2 linked regions of the Homo sapiens genome follow. The protein of the gene in region 1 purifies or fractionates together with the protein of each later gene. This does not show direct contact. Each region holds a gene or a part of one and is shown on either strand. Other genes may lie near its edges.

What was found.
Region 2: the proteins of MT1M (region 1) and TPPP2 purify together in Homo sapiens (affinity purification with mass spectrometry; one large-scale study listed by BioGRID and IntAct). This does not show direct contact.

The regions. Positions count from the first base shown.
Region 1 is NC_000016.10:56,631,283-56,634,481, forward strand, and holds MT1M (metallothionein-1M), read left to right. Parts: upstream 1-1,376; 5' UTR 1,377-1,449; coding exon 1,450-1,477; intron 1,478-2,057; coding exon 2,058-2,123; intron 2,124-2,468; coding exon 2,469-2,560; 3' UTR 2,561-2,699; downstream 2,700-3,199. UniProt on the Homo sapiens protein: Metallothioneins have a high content of cysteine residues that bind various heavy metals; these proteins are transcriptionally regulated by both heavy metals and glucocorticoids.
Region 2 is NC_000014.9:21,028,576-21,033,218, forward strand, and holds TPPP2 (tubulin polymerization-promoting protein family member 2), read left to right. Parts: upstream 1-1,641; 5' UTR 1,642-1,729; intron 1,730-1,937; 5' UTR 1,938-2,006; coding exon 2,007-2,179; intron 2,180-2,436; coding exon 2,437-2,590; intron 2,591-3,316; coding exon 3,317-3,502; 3' UTR 3,503-3,744; coding exon of another isoform or gene 3,745-3,792; 3' UTR 3,793-4,240; downstream 4,241-4,643. UniProt on the Homo sapiens protein: Probable regulator of microtubule dynamics required for sperm motility. In contrast to other members of the family, has no microtubule bundling activity.

The sequences.
Region 1 (3,199 bases):
AGTGGAGACAGGGTTTCGCCATGTTAGCCAGGCTGGTCTCCAACTCCTGACCTCAGGTGATTCATCCGCCTCGGCCTTCGTAAGTGCTGGGATTACAGGTGTGGGCCGCGGTGCCCTTCCCCTGTTGTTTAGAAGATTTCCAGCAATAGAGAAGTGCTGACGACATATCTGGACCAAAGGAAGGCTTGATCATGGACACTTTCCTTTAAGAGGCTGGCTGGACTTAAACAAGGGCACAAATTTTTAGCTCTGTGACGACCAGCCAGTTACTTGGACATTTCCTTTGTAGTCCTGTGATGAGCAAAACGGGTTCATAACTAGTATTTCCCTTTAGGATTGCTGTGAGGATTCAAAGAATGAAAGAGATTAAAAAGGGACTGGTGTAGACTCAATGTCATGCAATAGTCAGGTATACTGAAGAGAAACAACTGCATGTCTTGTTTTTTAATTTTATTATTTTAGAGATGCTGACTTGCTATGTGGACTAGGCAGAACTCGAACTCCTGGGCTCAGGTGATCCTCCCGCCTCAGCCTCCTAAGTAGCTGGGACTACAGCTTCCCGCGACCTCACCCATCTTGCTTTTTAATTTAAAGCAGAGTCTGCATATCATCTGAAGTCATCTCTCTTTGGGGACATCCCACAGGTCCAGAACTGCCAGACGGTAGTGGGGTGGCCGGCTAGGCTGTGGGGAGCATGGAGATTTATCTGCAAAGGAGGACCTGGACAAATGTTCCCCCACATCCTCTCAGGCGAAGAGAATGGACGGGAGAGAGAGGCCGACCAGTGTTCCCCGTGTTGCTGTGTACGGAGGAGCCAGTCCGAGGGACCGCGGTGTGGACAGGGACAGGCAAGGCGGGGAAGGAGGAGAAACGAAAGCCACATTGGTGGCGGGTGCTCTGCACACGACTCGCTCCCTACCACACGCCCCCCGCTCCGCACACGACCGATCCGGGGACTGGAGCAGGAGGGCTGCACCGGGACTCCGGGACAGGCCCAGTTGAAAACGGCGGGGCGAGGGGGTGGGGTGGAGACGCCCGCGACGCCAAGGCTGGGGTCCCGGAAAGCGCGGGGAGGAGGGTGGAAGGCAAAGGCAACTTCGGGGAAACTGGGAAAGGCGGCCGGGACCTCGGGGACACTGCGTACCACCCGGCGCACAGCCCCTCCCGCGCAAACCCGAGCCAAAGGGGCGGTCGAGCGGCGCACTCGGAGCGGAGCTCAGGGGATGGTGCGCCCGGCACTTATGCTGGGCTCAGCCCAGCCCAGCCCAGGACCGCTGGCGGTGCGAACCCAGCCGGGCGGGTGCAAGCGCGGGGCAGGGCCTCTGCGCCCGGCCCCCTCCCCTGAGTAGAAAAGCAGCCGCAGGCTGTGGCGCTCCACCACGCCGTCCGGGTGGGCCTAGCAGTCGCTCCATTTATCGCTTGAGATCTCCAGCCTTACCGCGGCTCGAAATGGACCCCAACTGCTCCTGCACCACTGGTAAGAGAAGCCGACCCTGCGCCCTAGGAATCCCATTTCCCAGCCCCAGTACTGAGGGTCTCTGGGTTTGAGGAGGTCGCATTTAAGTTCTGAGCGGAAGGGAATTCCTTTACTTCCTTAGGTGCTTTCTTCCTGATCTCCCCTCTGAGAGCACTGCCCTCCCTCCTGGGCCTCTGGGTCAGAGTTAAGGATACTGAGGGTCAAGGCAGTCCCGCTCCACATCACCCAGTTGGTTAGGGTCCTGCTGGCTGGGCCCCAGTGTTCTCCTCCAGGCTCTGAGCAATCAGGGTGGACTGGGGGCTGGAGACATTTGAGTCTTCAGGGTTCAGCACAGAAGGTTCTGGCTGGCAATCTCAGTATTCCTGGGTTGGGTGTGCCCCTGGGACCTTCCTGGTAGGGTAAAACAGGAGGGTGCTTGCCCTTCCCAGCGTTAGTGGAGAGGACAGGGGCTTTCCCTGAGTGGGAAAGGAGCTCTGAGGGCTGGCCCTGCACAAAGGAGGGGGCACTGGAGACTCATTGACCCATTGCTGTACCTTCTTCATCTCACTCACTGCCCACTGCGTTTTTCTCTTCCTTGCAGGTGTCTCCTGCGCCTGCACCGGCTCCTGCACGTGCAAAGAGTGCAAATGCACCTCCTGCAAGAAGAGTGAGTGCGGGGCCATCTCCAGGAATCTGGGGCTGTGGCTGAGATTGGGAGGGAACCCAAGGCTGGCCCTGAGTGCATCCTTCTGGGGAACTGGGCTTTCTTTGCCCTCATTGCCCGTGTCATTCCCTCTCCAGGCTTTCTGCCCTAAATTCAGATGGGGCAGGACAGCATTTTTCTCTTGGGACACAAATCCCAACTGTAGCATCTATGGTTTCAGAACAGAGCTGTGCCAGACGTAAAAAGCTTCCTCTGGGTCTGGGTTCTGAGCTCCAGCCAGGCTTGCTATTGGGGCAGGGCGGTGCCCGGTCAAGTCTACTGCTACCTCTCTCTCCCCTTCTTCCCCAGGCTGCTGCTCCTGCTGCCCCGTGGGCTGTGCCAAGTGTGCCCACGGCTGTGTCTGCAAAGGGACGTTGGAGAACTGCAGCTGCTGTGCCTGATGTGGGAACAGCTCTTCTCCCAGATGTTAATAGAACAAGCTGCACAACCTGGATTTTTTTTCAATACGATACTGAGCCATTTGCTGCATTTCTTTTTATATTAAATATGTGAGTGACAATAAAACAATTTTGACTTGAATCTTACTCTGTTCTTCTTTGTGTGCCTTGGAAAAAATGGACTGGGTGGGGGTTAAACTGGGAGTTTAGAGACCAGTCTCTGGATGAAAATGTGAGTCACTAACAATGTGAACACCTTCAGGCCAGCCAGGTTACTCACTGAGTTCACCCTTCTGTAAAACGGTATTGCATTGTGCACACCATATGGGTGCGGGCCATACATGATCGCTTTTAGTGTGATTCCAAATGTGGTACAGAAACTTCATCCCTTATTTTTATTTTCTGATTTTCCTCCACAACTTGAGATCCACATTGGATTTTAGGCTTAAAAGTGGCTATAGTGCTGGAACCCAACTTCTTAGTTTCTTGAATCCTACACGGGTGCTATGATTTAGATATTTTGTCACTGCCAAATCTCATGTTGAAATGTGTCCTCCACTATTGCAGGTGGGGTCTAGTGGGAGCTTTTGGGGCCATGAGGACAGATCCCTAAAGAATGGCTTGGTGCCCTCCCATGGTGAA
Region 2 (4,643 bases), on another chromosome or scaffold:
GTATAGGTCCTTGAATGCTAAGCAAAAAGATTTAGCAATGAGAAGCTATAGTATATCTTGAGCCACAGAATATTCTTGAGCAGGAGTAATAAAAAATACTGTTTTGTGAAAATTAATCTGATGGGGAGGAGGTAATAGAGATGGATTATGGGTGGGTGGGAGTGAAGAATTAGATTTAGAAAAGAGATCATTTAGAAACCAGAGTAGTCATCCAACTATGAGATGATAAGAACTTGAATAAGGGTGGAAGCAATAGGAATGGAAAGAAAGGCATAGATTTGTAAGACAAAGAAAAAAAATAGAAAGTGGTGGCATTATTAGATGGGAAAAGGAGGAAAGTCACCAGTCTCGTTGCTCTGTTTTAGGATCCGTGAGGTTCATCTATCTGTAGTGCTTCTGGCCAGAGAAAAGGCCGAAGAGAGAAAACCCTGAGGAACATCTTTGACCTGCATAGAAACTTATCTGAAGATTTTCAGAATCTGAGCCTCACCCTCAGTCTATCCCAGTTTTATCCTGACCTGTCCACATCTGTTATACTCCAAGGCTTGCTGGGCCCAACACTGGAAGCTATTTAATGTTTCTATTGCGACTGGCCTTTTAAAGCCAGTGGGATTCTCCATGCTACACTTGAGCCTGGAGACTAGAAAACATGACAGCCTGTTTTCATTAATCCGTTTTCATTAACTGCTGTGGTCTGAATGTTTATGTTGTCCACAGATTCATATATTAAAATCCTAACTCCCGGCTGGACGCAGTGGGTCACACCTGTAATCCCAGCACTTTGGGAGGCTGAGGCAGGTGGATCACTTGAGGTCAGGAGTTCGAAACCAGCCTGGCCAACATGGCAAAACCCCGTCTCTACTAAAAATGCAAAAATTAGCCAGGCATAGTGGCTGGGCTAATCCCAGCTACTGGGGAGGCTGAGGCATGAGAGTCGCTTGAATCCTGGGACTGGAGGTTGCAGTGCCCCAGGATCATGCCACTGCATTTCAGCCTGGGCAACAGACAGCGAGACTCCATCTCAAAATAAATACGCAAATAAATAAAATAAAATCCTAACTCCCAAAGTCATGGTATTAGGAGATGGGGCATTTTGGGGGGTGATTAAGTTTTATGAGGGCAGAGCCTTTCTGAATGGGATTCATACCCTTATAAATAGGCCCAAGGGAACTCATTCACCCCTTCTACCATGTGAGGACACAGCAAGAAGGTGCCATCTATGGACCGGAAAGCAGCCCTCACCAAACACTGAATCTGCCAGCACCTTGATCTTAGACTTCTCAGCCTTCAGAGCTCTGAGAAATAAATGTCTGTTGTTTATAAGCCACCCAGTTTGATATTTTGTTCTAGCAGCCCAAACAGACTACAACACCTTCCCTGGGCTCGCCTCAGCTTCTGTTGTGGGGCAGAGCATAAGGCAATTTGACTAGGACCCAGAGGATGGGTAAGCTTGGCTGAAATGATGGAAATGTGATCATCTGAAAAGGTCAGAAAGTTGGCAGTTTGCTCAATTCGGCATGCAAGGTAGGGAGACCAAAAGCCCCCTCCTTTGAAGGCAATGGCTGTAGCTGGGGCCAGAAGTGATGTCACATAACCACTGCTGAGGTCATAGAATCTTCCCTCTCCTCCCTCTGTCTCCTCATTGCCACAGCCAACCGGCTCCCACATATCTGCACACACTTAAATACAAAGGCCGGGAAGGGTCAGACCACCATCCGGGTACTCTAAGGTACATAAAAGAGGTAGGGGAAAGAGAGGATCATTCAGTAGGTAGGATCCACACTGGTATCTCCAATGCTGGGAATGGGAGACTCATGCTGTAGTTGCGTAGGTGCAATGGGAGCTGGGAGGGAGAAAGGAGAGAGCAACAGGGAAGAGGGGAGCTGTTCCTGTTGCTGACTGATTTTACCATAACACTCATCCTCATTACTCCACAGTCCTCCCTCCCCCTTCTCCTTCACCCCCAAGTGTCTCCCACGACTGCCCTCCCCGACCTCTAGCTGACCATGGCATCAGAGGCAGAAAAAACATTCCATCGGTTTGCTGCGTTTGGAGAATCATCAAGCAGTGGCACTGAAATGAACAACAAGAACTTCTCCAAGCTGTGCAAAGACTGTGGCATCATGGATGGCAAGACAGTCACCTCCACGGACGTGGACATCGTGTTCAGCAAAGTCAAGTGAGGAGCCAAAAATATGGAGGTGGGGGTGAGAAGAACCTGCGAGGTAGTTGGCCACGGAAGGGTTCACGTGGTGGAACATTTGCAGTGGGCCTACCAAGCACCACAGGGTACCTGGCGCTGTGCTATCCTTTGTCTTCGAGACACTCACTGATTGATAGGACAAAAGAGGCCAAATCTGAGTGAGGCAAGAGTTGGACCTTGGAAGGTAATGCATTCATGCTCCAAAGTTTCTGGATTTCTGTCTAACTGACCAGGGCCAAGAACGCCCGAACCATCACGTTTCAACAGTTCAAAGAGGCAGTGAAGGAACTGGGCCAGAAGCGCTTCAAAGGGAAGAGTCCAGATGAAGTCCTGGAGAACATTTATGGACTCATGGAGGGCAAAGACCCAGCCACCACTGGCGCTACTGTGAGTGACAGCCTTCATCCCCTTGACCCTACTTCCCTAAATCCCCATTGTTCCAGTCTACCCTCCCTAACCCTGCCAACTGTGTGACTGTAGAGACAGGGCCGAAACAGACTTTAGAGATCATCTAGACATTCCAGAAGTCAGGAAAATGTGGCCCAGAGAAGGGAAGTGACTTGCCCAAGGTCCATGGCTATTTTAATAGTAGATTTAGACTAATTTCCAAGTGTCTAGTATCTGAGCCAGGCAATTAGGGCTTGGTAGCTTTTGGAGGACATTAGTGTAGAGAATTTGGTACCTGATGCCCACTCCTCTTCCAATTCTTATTTAGGGTTTAATCTCAGGCCTCCTGCCTCTCACCTACTCCCTTTTTTAATTGTCCTGTCTGAACTAAAAGCTCTTTCTACAGTGGATATTGAGTCGGGGAGTGGGAGTGAAGTCCTCAGGCAGCAGCCTAGTCAGAATAACTCCTCTGGAAACAAAAAACCTACCCTCCCTCTGCACACGCCACACTCATTCCCACACCACACTCCTCCTCCCCCATGAGTGAACGGCTCTTACCAGAGTACCTGCCCACAGCTGTATCTGGGCCCTAAGAAAGCAGCACCCCATGCCAGTGGCAGAGCAAGAGCTCCAAGCACTTGTTCTAAGTATCTCGGGCCATCTTTGGGGAAGGGATATGACAGCGTAAGGAAAGGAAGAGAGCTCAAATCCATCCCTGGCTTGCAGAAAGCAACAACAGTGGGTGCAGTGGACCGTTTGACAGACACCAGCAAGTACACCGGCACCCACAAGGAGCGCTTTGATGAGAGTGGCAAGGGCAAGGGCATTGCGGGACGGGAAGAGATGACTGACAACACAGGCTATGTGAGTGGTTACAAGGGTTCTGGCACCTACGATAAGAAGACCAAGTAGAGAGGAGCTTCATCTCAGCCTGCTAGCCCCCTGACCCTGCATGTTTAACACCAGGGAGCTTGGAAAACAATAAACATCTGTGTGTGCAGCAGCCAAAATCTCTGTCTGTGAGGGACAGATGAGCCTACTAGTGTAGAGAGAGGGAGAAGAGGCAGCACAGGAGGGTGGGTTCTCCACCACACACCCTTCGCTCTGCTTAGCCTTATGCCTACCAGCCATCAGTTAGCATTCCTCCTCAACAGCTGCTTCCAAGAACAGGATGGAAGAATATATTTGGAGTAAAGAGATGAACCAGATGTGGAGGTAAAAGTATCTACTACTTGTGTTCACACATTACTGATATCCACCTCTCCACCCCCACCCCTCAAAAGGGTGTAGCAATTCCTCACGTGATGGACTATGACTATATCACATATTAGATCCTTCCCTGTCCCTCCACCTTCCTCATCTGTTGCAATTCAGGTTTTTTGGGTGGAGGAGTAGAAGCCAGCTAAGGTTGCCTGACTTCTATTACAAATTTGTTCCAGAGCTGGGGTAAGGGGAGAGTCTATTTTCAACACCCAGCCCAGAACTAAGTTTTACCCCACATCACCTCCATCATGGGGCACATGGGACAGAAGAGCTTACTGACTGCTAAGGGTAGCTCAGGAAGATGGCCAGATGAGGCAGGCTGCCAGGATTCCAAGAGCAGGAGTTCTGGTGCACTGAAGAAAAAGCAATTAAATCACAACAGAGTCAGATGTGTGTTATTAACTTTTTATTTTGAATTGATTATGGGTTGACAGGAAGTTACAAAAAATGGTACAGAGGGGGCTCGTGTGCCCTTCACCCAGTTTCCCCCAATGGTTACATCTTACATACTCAGATGTGGTTTTAGAAATTTATGTTCGATTAGAGCCGGGCCTGCCTCATTCGCTGCCTGGTCAGGGGCAGACTCTGGAGTCTGGGGGATTTGGGAGGAGCTTCTGGAAGAGAAGGGAAGCAGGAACCTCTGGGGAATGGGTGAGAGAAGATACCTTGAAATGCCAGTGAGCCAAGGTAAGAAGACTGGAAGAAAAAGAGGTTGGAAAAAGGAAGGCAGGGTGACTACGGTTGTTGGGAGTGTGGGGGAGACAGTCCTAGGCTCCATGGTAAGAGGAAG